2 separate regions of the Homo sapiens genome follow, and region 1 is linked to region 2. The links come from fine-mapping of genetic effects on gene expression. A gene starts in region 2. The other region holds a variant in brackets. All regions are shown on one strand. Distances are from middle to middle. Region 1 has its middle 25 kb from the start of UQCRFS1-DT. Region 2 holds the start of UQCRFS1-DT (UQCRFS1 divergent transcript).

What was found.
Region 1: its variant is fine-mapped to the expression of UQCRFS1-DT in testis (GTEx, PIP 0.99).

The regions. Positions count from the first base shown.
Region 1 is chr19:29,234,057-29,242,396 of GRCh38, forward strand. No RefSeq gene overlaps it. Among named protein-coding and RNA genes, the nearest start is that of UQCRFS1-DT, 25 kb to the left of the region's middle. The variant A/T (reference allele first, on the strand shown) is at 3,101.
Region 2 is chr19:29,209,642-29,217,981 of GRCh38, forward strand. UQCRFS1-DT (UQCRFS1 divergent transcript) reads left to right here and starts at 3,612. Exons shown (of 2, transcript NR_184022.1): 1 at 3,612-3,767; 2 at 5,640-6,174. It overlaps UQCRFS1 (ubiquinol-cytochrome c reductase, Rieske iron-sulfur polypeptide 1), which reads right to left and starts at 3,510. Exons shown (of 2, transcript NM_006003.3): 1 at 3,264-3,510. The coding sequence starts at 3,477. RefSeq lists a silencer at 3,104-3,413 and an enhancer at 3,454-3,693.

The DNA.
Region 1 (8,340 bases), 24 kb after region 2:
AGGTAGATCTTATGATCTTTGTGTCAGGGGTGAAAAACTCAGGCACAGTGTTCAGTGACTAGCTGAAGGGGCAGAGCCAGAATTCGAACCCAAGTGAGCCTGACACCAGGGCCTAGGTTTTCTCTTCCATGACACAGTTCTCACCACACTGAGAGTCAGAGGAGGCACAGGTCCTCTCCTGGGGCTTCCAGAAGAATACTGCTTACAAGAAAAAACAATTATAGGAAAAATAAGGTGTGAGGGATACTACGGACACAGCTCTGCATTGGCTGGGAGAGGGACAGATCAAAAGCCTTCTAGCAAATATCAACTCCATGAGGACAGGCACTGTGTCTGCCCTGCCTTCCACCAATCCCCAGCTTTCAATACAGCACCTAGAACATGGTAGCTCAGTAAGTATCTGGTGGATGGGTAGATGGATAGATGGATGGATAAATGGATAGATGAATGGATGGATGAATGAATAGATGGATAGGTGAGTGGATACATGGACGGATGGATGAATGATCACTGTATGGATAGGTGAATGGATACATGGATGGATGAATTGATGGATGCATGGGTGTATGGTGGACGGATGGATAACAGCGGACTGGATAGATGGATGAATTGATGAATACATACATGGATGGATGGATGGATGCATGGAAAGAGATCTGTGTTGTTGGTCTATACCTTCCAATGGCTCATTTGTTAGCAGGCCACATTCTCTTTATTGGCCTCAATTCTGCACCTGTAGCCTGAGGGCCTGAGTTCAGACTGTATTCAGGGAGCTTTCATGGGTGCCATCAGAGGTCTCCCGGACAATCCTGCTAGACTGGCTCCTCCCTCCATTCCCACCCCTATCCCTAGAAAAGCACAGAATGCCAAGGCTGCCCAGTTGTGCACCTGAGGCAGCCCAGTTGGGCATCTCTAAGAATGTATGTAGATTATGAATGTGACTGACCCCATCCTGGGTGCTGCAGCTTTGAACTAACACTTAAAAAACAAAAAAAAGAACACACACACACAAACACACAAACACACACATTCTGGAGTGAGCTTGGCAAACTGCTTCTGAGCCCTTCCTGTGTGGGTAGAGAGCACAGTAATTAAATGGACTGGTTCTGGAGCCAGACTTCCTGGGCTCATCTCCTTCGTGGCAGTGAGACCAGGCACTGGATTCTCTGAGGTTTCACTTATCCTCTGTTAAATGGGATAGCACCTGCCTCTCCAGGTCACTGTGAGGGTCAGACGCTCCCCTTAGCGGGGACTTTCCATATCACTGGGGTTTACCAACAGGTCGGTAAACTCTGTCACAGTGGCAGGGCTTCTCAAGTCCAAGTTCAGCACTACCCCCCAGAAACAGGTGAGATATCCTTTTCCTGGGTTTACAGTGTCCTGGAGCTTTGTGAAGGGGCTGGTGTATCACATGAGGTAATGATCTGGGACTGGATGGACTCCCAGGACAGGTGTGAGTGTCACCTCTGCTGGGTGGCCAAGGGGCACAGTGCTGGACACTGACAACATGAAGTACTCACCTCTATGCAATGCTGACTCTCAAACCCAAGCAAATAGAGTCTGCAGGTGTGAGTGGGGCATAGAGCTGGGTGGCCTGCTGAAGAATTCACTGCCTTGCCATCCCTGAACACACACACATGTGGTTTCTCCCAGACCTTCGACAGGCTATAGCCCCTGGCTTTCCCCAGTACGTTTCCTCCTTACATAGTTTTCCCAGGAGCCTGACACCTCACTCCCACCTAACTCTTCTTCCTCCCTGCTTTCCTGAGAGATATTTTAGCCATTTCTACTACCACCATTGCCTCAAACCCTGTTCTCTTCCTTTCACAGGGAACCTTGCCTTCTTATCCTAGGAGCCTAAATTATTATCAATGGAAAAAAATGCTTGCTAGAAGGCAAGGCTGGCTTACTTATTACACTCTACTGAAAAATGGGAGAACAATCACCCAGTCCGACAAAGGAAGGGGGACAATGACACTTGTATGGCACTCACTAGATAGGCTCCATAGCATATTTTCTTTTTACTTTTTTGAGACAAGGTCTCACTCTGTTGCCCAGGCTGGAGTGCAGTGGTGCAACCTGGGCTCACTGCAACCTCCATCTCAAGACTCAAGTGATCCTCCCATCTCAGCCTCCTGAGAAGCTGGGACCACAGGCATGTGCCACCATGCCTGGCTAATTTCTTGCATTTTTTGTAGAGATGGGGTGTTGCCATTTTTCCCAAGCTGGCCTTGAACTCCTTGGCTCAAGCAATCCATCCTCTTTGGCCTCCTAAAGTGCTGAGATTACAGGCATGAGCCACTGTGCTCAGCCTAGCATATTTTAAGTGAAAGAAAATAGTAGTAAACTTGAAGACAGATCAATAGAAATTAATTCAGTCTTAGGTACATACACAAAAAAGGTTTTAAAAATAAAAATACTTTCAGAGATGTGTGAGACTATAGTGTGTGGTCTGAAATGCAGGTCATTAGAATCCCAGAATGAGAGGAGCAACAGAAAAGGAAAGAAAAAAATATTTAGAGAAAGAATAGCCTCAAAAGCTCCAATTTCTGTTGAAAAAATTAACTTACAGATGCAAGAACTCGATAAACCCCAAGTATAATAAAACTAAAGAAAATTCTACTGGATATATAATACTCAACATTCAGAAAGCCAAAGAAAGATAAAATTTTGAAAACATTCAGCCAAAGTGACTCCAGAAGAAAACCAGTAAGAATAATCACTGATTTCTTATCATGAGCTATGGATGCCAAAAGAAATAGAAACAATATAATTCAAGTACTGTAGGGTGGAAAAGAACAGTCAACCAAGAATACTATATTCAGATAAAATATGCCTCAAAAATGAAGGTTAAATAGAGACACTTTTAGAAAACAAATACTGTGATAATTTGTTACCACCAACAGACCTGCACTACAAAAAAAGTAAAGGAGGTCCTTTAAGCTGAAGAAATAAAGAGCTCTGAAAATAGTGGATATGTTCATAAATACAAAGGACCATTTGTTTAATTTTCTTCTTTTAAAAATATGATTGTTTAAAGCAAAAATTGTAATACTGCACAAATGGGTTTATAATGTGTGTGTGTGTATATATATATATA[A/T]AAATAACACTAAAAATAGGGTGGCAAATGGAAACATACTATTTCAAGTTTCCTATATTTTGTGTAAAGTAAGTTGATATTAACCATAAGTAGAATGGGTTAAGTTAAAGGTAGCTATAGTAATCCTATTAGGAACCACTAAAAACATAAGGCAAATATGTATATTTTGGAGACAGGGTCTCACTCTGTTGCCCAGGCTACAGATGTGTGCCACCATGCCTGGAGGTTTTTTTTTTTTTTTTTTGTAGAGATGAGGCCTTGCTGTGTTGCTAGGCTGGTCTAAAGCAGTCCTTCTGCTTCCACCTCCCAAAATACTGGGCTTACAGGTATGAATGCCTCTCCTGCAAAATATATAGATAGAAAGCCAATAAGGAATTTAGATGAAATACTAAAATATTTTAACAAAAAAGAAGACCAGAAAGTAAGAACAAGGGGAGAACAACACCAAATAGATTAGGCAAATAGAAAATAAATAGAAAAATGGCAAACTTTGATACACCATGTCAATAATTACATTAAATGTATAAAGAATATTCACTTCAATCAAAAGGCAGAGATTTTTAAGGGTTGGATAAAAAGCAAGAATTGGCCAGACACAGTGGCTTATGTCTGTAATTCCAGCATTTTGGAGGTTGAGGCAGGAGGACTGCTTAAGCCCCAAAATGTCAGACCAGCCTGGGGAACATGGTGATACCGCAACTATACCAAAAAAAAAAAAAAAAAAAAAAAAGGTGGAGGTATCGCTTGAGCCTGGAAGTTTGAGGCTACAGTGAGCCATGTTCACGTCATTGCACTCCAGACTGGGTGACAGAGAAAGAATCCTGTCTCAAAAAGAAAAAAAAGAAAAAGAAAAAGCAAGAATCAAGTATATGCTCTTTACAATAGACACAATTTAAATTCAAATACAAGAAAAATATATTGAAAGAAAAATATGCAAAAAAAATGCAAAATGTAAACATACAAAAGCTGAAGTGGTCATAATAATATTAGTCAAAATAGATTTCAAAACAAGTGCTATTATTACTAGAGGGGAAGAAGAACTTTGCATTACTACAAAAGAGTCAGGCCAGGCGTGGTGACTCTTGCCTGCAATCCCAGCACTTTGGGAGGCTGAGGTGGGCAGATCACCAGGTCAGGAGATCGAGACCATCCTGGCTAACATGGTGAAACCGCGTCTCTACTAAAAATACAAAAAATTAGCCGGGCGTGGTGGCGGGCGCCTGTGGTCCCAGCTACTCGGGAGGCTGAGACAGGAGAATGGTGTGAACCCAGGGGCAGAGCTGGCCGTGAGCTGATGTCGTGCCACTGCACTCCAGCCTGGGCGACAGAGTGAGACTCTATCTCAAAAATAAAAATAAATTAAAAAATTTAAAAAAGAGTCAATACAATCAGGAAGATATGGCATTTATAAAGGTGTAGGTGCCTAATAACAGATCTTCCAAATACATGCATAAAAATTGACAAAATTAAAAAGCAAAATAGACAAAGCCACAGTCATAGTAAGAGACGTTAGTGCACCTCTCTCAGGGGGCAAAGAGAACTACTAGACAAGAAACCAGTAAAAGTATGGAATGTCTGAAGAACATTATCAACCACCTTCACCTACTTGACATTGATAGAACCCTACACCAAACAACTGCAGAACACATTCATTTCAAGTGCAAATGGATGTGCATCTAGTAGATCATACACTATGTCATCAAACAAATTCAATAGATTTCTAAAGAATGAAATCTTACAAAGTATGTCCTCTGACCACAAAGAAAGTAAATTATAAATCCTAGCAGAATTCAGTCAGTAGCAGAAATCTCACCCCGTCTAGTATCCTGAGAAACTTTTGAGGAAAATCTCCTCTCTGCAGCTTTTCAGTAAGCACTGAACTGGGGAAGTTCAAAAATAAATTTTTCTTTTAAAAATAACTATCCTGTTTCCACTCTGATAAGCACATGAGCAACCATTCCTCACTTTGAGCTGATGGCAGAAAATGCAACTCCAGCTGGAGTTAGCAAAAAATAAATGCATTAGCTCATGTGAACAGAAAACCCCAGCATGAGGATATGGTCTCACCCTCAGCCTCCCCTCAGCCTCCCAGCTCTACTTTATTCTGTGTGGACTCCCTCTTGAGCAATGTCTTCTATGGCAGGATGGCCACGTTCATCTTCATGTCTGGCAGAAACAGAGCTAGTGTTTTCCAAGAGGCACAGCTTTTCGTTATCACTGTTTCTGATTGGCTAAGTCTAGATCACATGACCACTCTTGACTCTGAGGTTGGCATCAATCATTCCACTCACTGCAAGGGTTGATAGTGAGTTGGTGGTTTCCCAGAGGGACACTGAGGTTGAGAAGAGAGAATGAACTGAGCAGGCAATGACAGCAGATGTGCACTCCCTGCACCCACTGGGTTTAAAGATGGTGGAGCAGGAGGTAGGGAGAAATGTGGAGGGATCTGATGGGCAGATGAAATCCCAGCAGGTCAGAACTTACCCCAGAACCTAGCTTAACCCCCCTGTCTTTCCAGACAATGGTCACTTCCAGGTGGGGGGCTGATTAGTGCATGTGTACACACACACACACACACACACACACAACACAAACACTCATTGTTTTCATTTTCTTTCCATTTTTTCACAATGAATACAACTTATATTATTTCTGTATTGTGTTTTGAAAACACAAATATTTAAGGCAAAAACATCCTTTGGGGGTTGGAATCTTTTTTCTTTTTGAGGGGACATAGAGTAGAATTATGAAAAGATGCTTATCTTCAAGGTCAAAACTGTACACTCCACAGGTGCTATTACAAACATTTAGCGAGTTTCTACTTTTACCCTCAAAATAGGAATAACCTCTCATTTAATTACCTCATAAGTTGTGGGGAAAGCCCTCACCAAAACGTGGAGCATTTGAGATAGTGCATGTAAACCAGCTTTCTATACCGAAGGTGTTTTACAGAGGAGAGAAAAGGTTATCTGTATTTCAATTCTGGAAGCCACAGGAAAGTAACTTGTGTTACTTTCAGAAACACAAGTTTCTGAAGCTCCTATTCAGAAAGGATCTTTTTCCACCCTTCAGAGTCACAGCCTTCTTTCCCCCAAAGGGAGAAGCCTTTACCTGTTGTATCTCTAGGCTTTAACCACCACACAAATAGAAATAACAATTGTAGCGTGGAACAAACCCAAGGGACAGAGGCAATTAAAAATAAATCAGACATCTTGGAAAAAGTCATTTGCAGAAACAGTTGTGTCCACAGCATGAAATATGGAGGAAATACATTAAAGCAAAAATTAATTTAATAAACACTCACCCTCATTCTTTTTAAAGGATCGAATAGTATAAAATACTTCATTAGGCAAAGTCTCAGCAGGGGAACATGGACTTTTTTAAAAAATGACTTTGTAAGTTAGAGATGGAAGATAAAAAAGAAGAGAGAGATGGGGAGAACATGGCTTTTGTCTGAGTGTGCAACTTTAGAATAGGGCAGGGAAGTTCAACTATGGGGAGAAGATGGTCAGGGTGCTTAGGACCCCCTCATATCCCAGGGGTCCCATCATGCTAGAAACACACAAAGCCAGTGAGACAATGGCAGCCTCCACCCAGATAATCCACACACACAGAAACACATCTGATTTAAGACCCAGAAATGGCTTCAACAGTGCCATCTCCTGCCCTAAGCTGCTCTGCACTTGCTCTGGGAGGTGAGTAGAAATGCTACTGAGGAAGGTAAATCATCTGATCTCCCCCAAGTTGATCCCAAGGCCTTGCGCGGTGCTGGGGGATCAGCTGATGCCCCCAAATGCGTGCCGATTGATGTAATGAGCATTTGGGGGTGCCAACCCAGGGTCCTTTTTCTGTTCACTTCCTACTGATACCCAGCTTTTTCTTCAGGAATCCACCTCAGCTCATGGCCCGACCCAGAATTCCAGATTGGGGCTTTTAGTGGCTGAAATAAATTCAGGTATTCCATTTCCCAGACCTGGTCATTAGTTTAGAGGTGACCCTTCTGCAATGTTGAGACAGGAACACTCACCAACTGGATTCTGTGATGTGCAGGCAGGAAACCTAAAATTGTGGGAACAACTATGGCTGCAAAAAGGGAAGTCAGCCCAGGGCCAAAGCCAGCACACACAGAAGGACCCAGAGGGAGATCAAGCAAAATAGGGCACCCTGATCATGCCATTCCTGAAGCTGTGCTTTCCTTGATTTCCAACAGTTTATTCCAGTAGGAATAAATCTTGCTTGTTTTATAGGCTGGTTGGAATTTGGCAGCAGTTTGATGTTTGCATGTTAAGAGTTCTGACACTGAGCAGGTTGGAGAATGAGAAAGAGCAAGACAAGAGAAAGGAAGGGAGAGGGAAATTAAGAAAGGGAAGCAAGGAGAAAAGAGAGGGAAGAAAGGAGGAAAGAAAGGAAAAGAAAGGAGAAAAGGAGAGGGAAATTAAGAAAGAGAATAAATGAGAAGAGGCAAATCATAATAATAATAATCCAGAAGAATAAAAGATTTTTAGGGCAGTATGGGGTTGTGTAGACTGATATGTCCAGCTCTCATATTATGGATGAGAAAATAGAGGTCCCAAGAAGCAACGTGACTCTGCCAGGGCCACACCATCAGTGTGACCCAGCATGAGGACCCAAGCGTCCCGGCACCCAGCCTCCTTCTTTCTTCCCCCAAGTCACAAATATAGAGAAGCAGTTTTTATAGCTAAAGTAGTTCTTGCTTATTACAGAGAATTTGAGATGTGCACAGAAGTAGAAAAAAGAAAAAAGCCATAATGTTACCATGCAGATATAACCATTATTAACATTTAACCAATTTTCCTGTCAGTATTCTTCTGTATTTAAGGATCATTTTTACAGAGTTTTAAACCCTCAGTTTACATAATTGTATTCCCTGCTTTTTTCTCTTATGTCGTAAGCATTCCCCATGTTACTGCATATTCTTCAGGAACAAAAATGTTTGACTCTATAATATTCAATCAGGCAGATAGACCCTCATTTATTTAACCGTTTTCCTACCAGTTTTCCTACCAGTGGATATATTTTTCAAATTTTCAACACTTACTTTCAAAACGCTTGAAGATCCTCACATAAAACTTTTTTGTATGTAAGATTATTTACTTATAATTGATTCACAGAAGTGAAATCTTAGGGTTGAAGGGCAGGAATTAGGGTTGCCACATTTAGCAGCTAAAAATGTAGGATTTAAATTTTTCATTTCAAATTATTTATCTGCAATTGAAATT
Region 2 (8,340 bases):
ACTACTCTAACAAATAAATGCTAACCTGCCAGTATATACTGGCATTTGGAATTAAGCATAAATTACTTGCTCCTAGCACTACCTGGGATTACAGAAAAGATGAGCTTCCTCCCTAAAAGATAAAGGAATAAAAAGTTCATACTTCTACATTAAAAACAGTATCCACAACCCTTAACAGTATACAAGGAAATGTACAAGAAAACTCAATAAAATGGCTTTGCCCTTCTCATTCAGAGATTTGGTGGCAAAAGTCTCCTCCCACTCTATCTAGCTGGTTACACTTTAGTAGGCTACACCACCAAGAATCCTTTCGGAAATTAAACTGCCCTGTTGCAAAAATCATTCTCCAAATATTTACATGAGCTGCATTAGGTCTGACTTTCAGTAAGATGCTAGATTTAATTCTAACCTAAAGCAAAATCAAATACTTAAAGGAGAAAATTTAAGGAATTTTAACAAAACAAGTTTTATTTTAAGGTTGAGCTCCAATGCGCCTTGGAAATCTGCATGAAAATAGTACAACCTTCCTCTCCAATTCAAGAATCTTCTCCAGATCCAACCCCTCCACTCCCATAAGCCATCCTGCCATGAACCATCTAGACAGACTATAATGTGAACTTAAATTACAGGCTGAAATGATTACAGAAAAGGTTTTTGCCTTATGGTTCTACATTATTTGCCTGTTTCTAAAAATAGTTTCTCTAAGTCAGGTAAACCTCCAATTTTTTTTTTATTATACTTTAAGTTTTAGGGTACATGTGCACAATGTGCAGGTTAGTTACATATGTATACATGTGCCATGCTGGTGTGCTGCACCCATTGACTCATCATTTAGCATTAGGTATATCTCCCAATGCTATCCCTCCCCCTCCCCCCACCCCACAACAGTCCCCAGAGTGTGATGTTCCCCTTCCTGTGTCCATGTGTTCTCATTGTTCAATTCCCACCTATGAGTGAGAACATGCAGTGTTTGTTTTTTGTCCTTGCGACAGTTTACTTAGAATGATGATTTCCAATTTCATCCATGTCCCTACAAAGGACATGAACTCATCATTTTTTATGGCTGCATAGTATTCCACGGTGTATATGTGCCACATTTTCTTAATCCGGTCTATCATTGTTGGACATTTGGATTGGTTCCAAGTCTTTGCTATTGTGAATAGTGCCCCAATAAACATACATGTAAATGTGTCTTTATAGCAGCATGATTTATAGTCTTTTGGGTATATACCCAGTAATGGGATGGCTGGGTCAAATGGTATTTCTAGTTCTAGATCCCTGAGGAATCTCCACACTGACTTCCACAATGGTTGAACTAGTTTACAGTCCCACCAACAGTGTAAAAGTGTTCCTATTTCTCCACATCCTCTCCAGCACCTGTTGTTTCCTGACTTTTTAATGACTGCCATTCTAACTGGTGTGAGATGGTATCTCATTGTGGTTTACAGGCAACCTAAAAATTGGGAGAAAATTTTTGCAACCTACTCATCTGACAAAGGGCTAATATCCAGAATCTACAATGAACTCAAACAAATTTACAAGAAAAAAACAAACAACCCCATCAAAAAGTGGGCGAAGGACATGAACAGACACTTCTCAAAAGAAGACATTTATGCAGCCAAAAAACACATGAAAAAATGCTCAGCATCACTGGCCATCAGAGAAATGTAAGCCTCCAATTTTTTGAAGAAACTTTAGCAACACGACGAATTCCAAAGATGCTTTTCTTTTGCTATTGAAATGTTCTCCTTCCTTCCTTCTCACCTCCAGGTCCCAAGGATGGGCTAGGGTACTCTACACCTGCCATGGACAGTTTCTTCAAAACCCACTGATGCTCCTTAACAAATATTCATTCACAAATACTTTGCACTAACTGTATACAAAATCCGACGTTGTGAAAGATAGAAAAATAAAGAAGATATTACCTTCTCTATGCCCTTAAGCCCAAGGGTGGAGGAGTTACCAATAAACACAATACAGAGTGTAAAGTGTATGTGCTACAGAGACAGACAAATCAGCAAATAAAAACTTTATTCACCTGATCCTTAACTGAGATTGAAAAGATGGGTAAGGAAAACATATGGACATGTAGCAACTTAGTGGAAGGACCATGAAGAAAGTGCAGAGCCCAGGGTGAATGAAGACAGAGTAAAAAGAAAAGTGGCGGGCAATTTGGTTAGCGTGTAGGGGAAGAGTCACAAACAGCTATCAGTGGAGCCAGGCTGGTAACAGAATGAAACACGCAGACCTGGTAAAGACTGTGACAAACTGGAGAAGACCACTTGCTCCAACTGCGGGGGCGGCCACTACACAGCACACTATGGAATTTTCCCAAGTAGAAACTAGATCCCAGTATTACCGGCTTCCAGCATTTTAAGAGATGCCATTAGTCTTCCCAGTTTTTTTGAAAACTACACAGCCTGCAGACACACTGCCCACAGGCTGCCATTTCTCTATCTCCGATACAGGGCCAAGTAAAGATGGAAGGCGAGGCAAAGAAGATAAACGGGGATCTAAGGACAGAGGGTGTGGAATAGCCCCTGCGAAGAGCTCAGTGGCTACGACAATTCGTCTTGTCAAATCCCTGCTACCACATGTCCACACCACGGATCCTGGTGCGAGTCATTCTACCTCGTCTGTTTTCTCATCTGTAAAATGTAAATGTCGTCAATCTCTGCCCGTCCTTGACGACTGATTATGTTGTGACACTACACTGTAACTGACCTTGTGTATGTTTTTTTTGTTTTTTTTTTGGTGGGGGGGTGATGAAGGGGAAGGACATGAAGGGATCGGTAGTGGTGAGAAGACCAACTTCCCAAATATTAGTAAGTTTCCATTTCTTAAGCATGTAAGTGCCCAAACTGTGCTAACGGCTTTACGTAGAATTCCTCCACCTAAGCCTCACGACACCCCTACAAAATTGATAAAGATATGAATCCATTTCACAGGAAGTACGTTTAGAAACTCGCCCAAGGTCAAACGACCTGCAAGCAACAAAACCCCTCAGAGGTGGCTGGAACAGCGGGACTACAGAGCTCGTGAACTCGGCCGAGGAGGAACCAGGCGAAGCCGGCGGACGCGAGTCCAGGCCGGCCACCAGAAAGACGCCCCGAGCCCGGGGGCCAGGCCCAGAGTTGCGGAGGCCGCCCAGCCCGACCTGATTCAGGCTCCGCTCGCGCGCCCGCGGCCGCTCCCTGCTGGGGGCCGGAGGAGCGGGCACCGAGAGACCCCCAGCCCTGCTCGCGGCCCTCGCCCCGGCTCACCATTGAGGCCCACGGAGGCGACCAAAGGCCGGCGCACGGCCTGGCCGCTCAGCGACTCCCGGCTGAGGAAGGGCCGCTTCAGGTCCAACACAGGCTGCTCCGGGGTGGCGGGCACCGTGGCCTGCACCAAGGGCCGCAGCGCGCCCGCCACCCCGCGGGACGTGGCCGACAGGACGGGCGCGAACGGGCCTGAGCGGGATGCTACCGACAACATGGCGACAGCCGCTCCAACCGCCAAGCCGGTCACAGGGACGACCTTCCAACCACGGCGCAGGCGCGAGGAGGCGCGGGACGCGTGACGACAGCGCGCCGCCGGAAAGGAAATTCTGCAGTCCTGCAGGGCGGGGCAAACTTGGAGAGGCGCTGCGTCGGGGGACGGGGCTACAAGCCGTCGCTGGGGGCGGGGCTTGCGGCCCACCTGTAGGTCCCGGTGCCACCTCGTCAGTGTCCCGAGAGATCCCCAGAAGAACGAGAGGGCTGAACAGGGGACCCCACTGACGTCCGGTGGGCCGACTTTACGATCCTTTAGGGTAAAAATTTCATCTAGGAAGACCTAGAGATAACAATAAACGATTATAGTTTAACTTAGGATGGTAATATATCTCAACTACGACGAAGTCCAGCACATAGTAATCGCTATGTGTTTACTATGATGATTTTTATTATCTTCATCTAACAACAACAACAACAAAAAGGCCAGAGGCATCTGTGCAAAGCTCGATAATGCTAATGGATTATGTTTATTAAGTATTCACTGTGTATTTGGTTTTGCGTTTTATTATACCTACGTTCTTTCATTTGTTATCAAGGTCTCTATGAAGTCAGAGCTATTACTATCAGCATTTTACCCATGAAGAAACCGAGGTTTAGAGAGATTCTTTTCCAGGAACTGGATAGCCAGCAAGATGTGAAGCAGGGTAATCTGTCTCCTGAGTCTATGCTCTTCAGTGCCACCACTGTTTCCCAAAGTAGGATTTTAGAATTTTAGAGGATGCACAGAGCTCGCTCATTCATGTTCCATCACATAGTGAGAAAGTTTTGTTTTCTTTTGTTTTGTTTTTCAATCCTGATTGCACCAATGAGAAAGTCTCAGTTTGGTGCTAATACATCTTTAATTAAAAAAAAAAAAAAGTAGAGATGAGGTCTCACTATATTGCCCACTCCAGTCTCGAACTTCTGGCCTCAAGGAGTCCTGTCTCCCCCTCCCAAAGTACTGGGATTATAGGCATGAGCAAATTCACTTGGCCTCAGTTTGATCCTAATATATCTTTAATTCCTCTCTACACTTATCTCCCACTTTTAACAGAAAAGATCTTGAGTTAGAAGCTCTTAGCAGAGAACTGAGTCTAGAGTGATTTCATTATATGGTTCATAGTATTGATTTTCTATCCATACTGGTTTTCTATTCTGTACTATACTGAGATAAAGTTTTTCATTTAGGTCAAAAATAATTTAAATATTAAGTAAATGTTAATATAAGCAGTGCACAGAATTGGCTCTGTGCTGTGCATGGGCTCTGTGATCTGGGCAAGTTCCCTCACCTCTCTGTGCCTCAGTTTCCTCACCTGCCAAATGGGGGCAGTAATGATGCCATGTGTGTTGTAAAGTTACTGGGAGGAGTAAATGAACTAAAACGTGTAAAGCATCTACAAGCAGGCCCAGCACACAGGCAGCACCAAGTGAGGATTTGCTAGTGGTGTTTTTATCTGAGATGCCACCTCCTCTAAGAAGCCTTCCCTTGATCCTTGCTGACTCGTTGTTATTCCTCATGCCAGGTCCAAAGTGTACTGACAGGTTTCCCCTTTGACCTTCCTATGACTCCCCTTAGGGCCTAGGCTTTGACCAGCCTTATAGCCCAAGGGACTATATTGTACTCTCAAGATTGGAGGCTGCCTCCTCAGGGGCCACCCTAGCCAGGCTCATCACACAGCTGGCTCAGTGCTCTCCCTTGGCAACAACCTTAGGATAAAAGACATTTCCAGAGAAGTTGTCACACAGCATGCATGGTTTGAGTGCTTCACAAGAAATAATATCACAATTCCCTCTGAGTTGGTAAGGAAATGAAAAATGAATGAATGAATGAATGATCCTTCACAAAACCTTCACAATGTCCCAGTTGGGTGAACAGAATAGGAATTATCTCCAGACCTCCTGGGTTCAATTTTAGTTTCACCACTCACTAGCTGTGCCCTAGGGCAAGTTATTTAATCTCTGTGTGTGCCTCCGTCTTTCTCTTGTAAAACAGAGATAATAACAGGATCTACCCTAGAGAGTTATTTTAAGGATGAGATGGATTAATACATGTAAAATGCCTAGAACTGTGCCTGGCACACAGTATGTAAATATCTGCAATAATAATAACTTTCTATTTTCTAGATGAAGAAACTAAGACTCAGAGAAGACAAATGACATGCCCAAAGACACATTGATAAGAACGCATCTGGTAGTGGTGTTCGAGTCCAGCGTTGCAGCAGAGAGATGGGTAACTGTATGGCCGAACAGCTGTCTTCTCGTGGAAGAAGGAGGCCAATGTCCAGGAGTGGCAGGCATACTGGAACTTGGACTTCTGTAGGCCAACCTGGGTTCCACTTGGTAGATGGGGGTCTTGCTGTGTTGCCCAGGCTGGTCTCAAACTCCTGGCCTGAAGCAGTCCTCCTCCCTTAGCCTCCAGAGTAGCTGGGACTACAGGTACACACCACTGCAACCCCTCAGTGGTTGTTATTTAACTGAAGGGGGTTTTAGCTTTCATGTATCAGCTCACTCTGGAGCCAGACAGCCTGGCCTTCATGGCAGCTCTGCCCCTTACTACCTGTGTGACATCGGGCAACGTTACTGAGTGTCAGATTTCTTATTTGTAAAACAGGGATAAAAATGACATTGCTGTGCAAATTAAAAGAAAGAATCCATGTGAGATATTTAGCACACTGGCATACAATGAGAGCTTAATAAACATTGTTAGTTTTGTAAACTGAGGGAAAAAAATAGCCACAGGCCTGGGAACATAAATGCTTGGTAAGCTTCTCAGTTCCCTGGAAGTCTGACACGCAATGTGTATGTATGAACAAGGCAGGAGGAAGCATGACACCAAGCCTTCCTTTTAACAAACACTGTTTAAATCAGAGGTCGGAAGTCATGGACTGGAGATTCATTCTCTCCCCACTCATTTCTGCCCAGAGACACCTGGTGATCTGGCATACACAGTGCTATGAACCTCAGAATTATTTGCTAGCATTTACAAATTGTGAGTACTCCCACATACAAACTGTGGTAGATGGAATAATGCCTCCCCACAAAAATGTCCACAGCCTAATCCCTGGAACCTGGGAATATGTTACTTTACACAGCAAAGGAATGTTGCAGCTGTGATTGGAGATTGAGATAGGGAGAGTGTATTAGTCTGTTGTCATGCGGCTATGAAGAAATACCTGAGACTGGGTAATTTACAAAGAAAAGAGGTTTAATTCACTTACAGCTCAGCACGGCTGGTTGGGGGGGCGCCCTCAGGAAATTTACAATCATGGTAGGAGGCACCTCTTCACAGGGTGGCAGGAGAGAAAATAAGAGCAGAGCGAAGGGGGAACCCCTTATAAAACTGTCAGATCTCATGAGAACTCACTGTCATGAGAACAGCATGGGGGAAACCGCCCCCATGATCCATCACCTCCACCTGGTCCCCCCCTTGTTACAATTCAAGGGGATTGTAACAATTCAAGGTGAGATCTGGGTGGGGACACAGAGCCAAACCATATCAGAGAGTCTTCCTGCAGTGTCCGGGTGGGTGCGGCATGTTCATAGGGTCTTAGAAGAGGGAAGCAAGAGGTGAGAGGACAGAAATGCCACATTGCTGGCTTTGAGGGTGGGGCCAGAGGAGGGACCTGCAGGCAGAGATAGAGCTGGAAATGGAAAGGAAACCTTCTCCCTTAGAGTCTCCAGAAGAAGTGCAGCCCTACAGACCTGTGTTAGGCTTCAGACCTCCAGAATTGTAAAATAATAAAATTGCATTATTTTAAGCCACTCGAGGCCCATGTCCTCAACAAAGAGAAAGACGGTGGGGTGCTGTCAGCCAGGGTAGGTACCTGCTTGGTGGTCTGGGTCCTTTCCCACTGTGTCCATTCAGTTACATTACCTGCCCATCTGCTGAGGCCTCGAGTTTGGGACCTCAGGTTTATATAATTCCTTGCACAAGCATGATCGATTGATTCCGGAGAGTAGCAGAACACTGATATGCAGGGGAATCTCCTAGTTCCAAGTGTGAGTTGTAGTCTAGACACTTCCTGTTCCCTACAGTCTTTTTTTTTTTTTTTTTTTTTTTTGAGACAAAGTTTTGCTCTGTTGCCCAGGCTGGAGTGCAGTGGTGTGATCTCGGCTCACTGCAACCTCTGCCTCCTGGGTTCAAGCAATTCTGCCTCAGCCTCCCGAATAGCTGGGATCACAGGCACATGCCACCATGCCCAGCTAATTTTTGTATTTTTAGTAGAGTTAGGGTTTCGCCATGTTGGCCAGGGTGATCTCAAACTCTTGACCTCACATGATCCGCCCGCCACAGCCTCCCAAAGTGCTGGGATTACAGGCGCAAACCACCGCCCCCAGCCCTCTTCCCTACTGCCTTGATGTGTTCATCTGGGCAATGTGTGTTGAGGGGGCATAGGGAGGGGAGCTCTAAGGCAAATGTGCTGGGATTCTGCATTCGTCATCCTCAAAACAAAATTGGTCCCTAGGTAGTTCTGCCTGTGATCCTGCATAATGTGCAAAGCCAGTAAGATGCCTTTGCCTCATCCCCAGGGAACATGCCTCCCAGCCACTTTCATCTCACCTAGTGCCTACACAGAAAGGCAACCGCCTCCCTGCTGAAGGGACCCCACGCCTGTCTCCTGTTTCCACACAATTACCCCGGGAAATGCCTGGCTTCCCATTTCCAGTTGCAGCCATCTTGACAGTTTCAGCCTCTCCCCACAGCCCACGTCCCTCACTTGAGCAGCGAGATGTGAAGACAGACAGCCGCTTGAGAACTGCACAGACTGTCCTTAATCTAAGCCATTTAAAAGGCATTTGTGTTCCATAAAACCCGTTTCTGTAA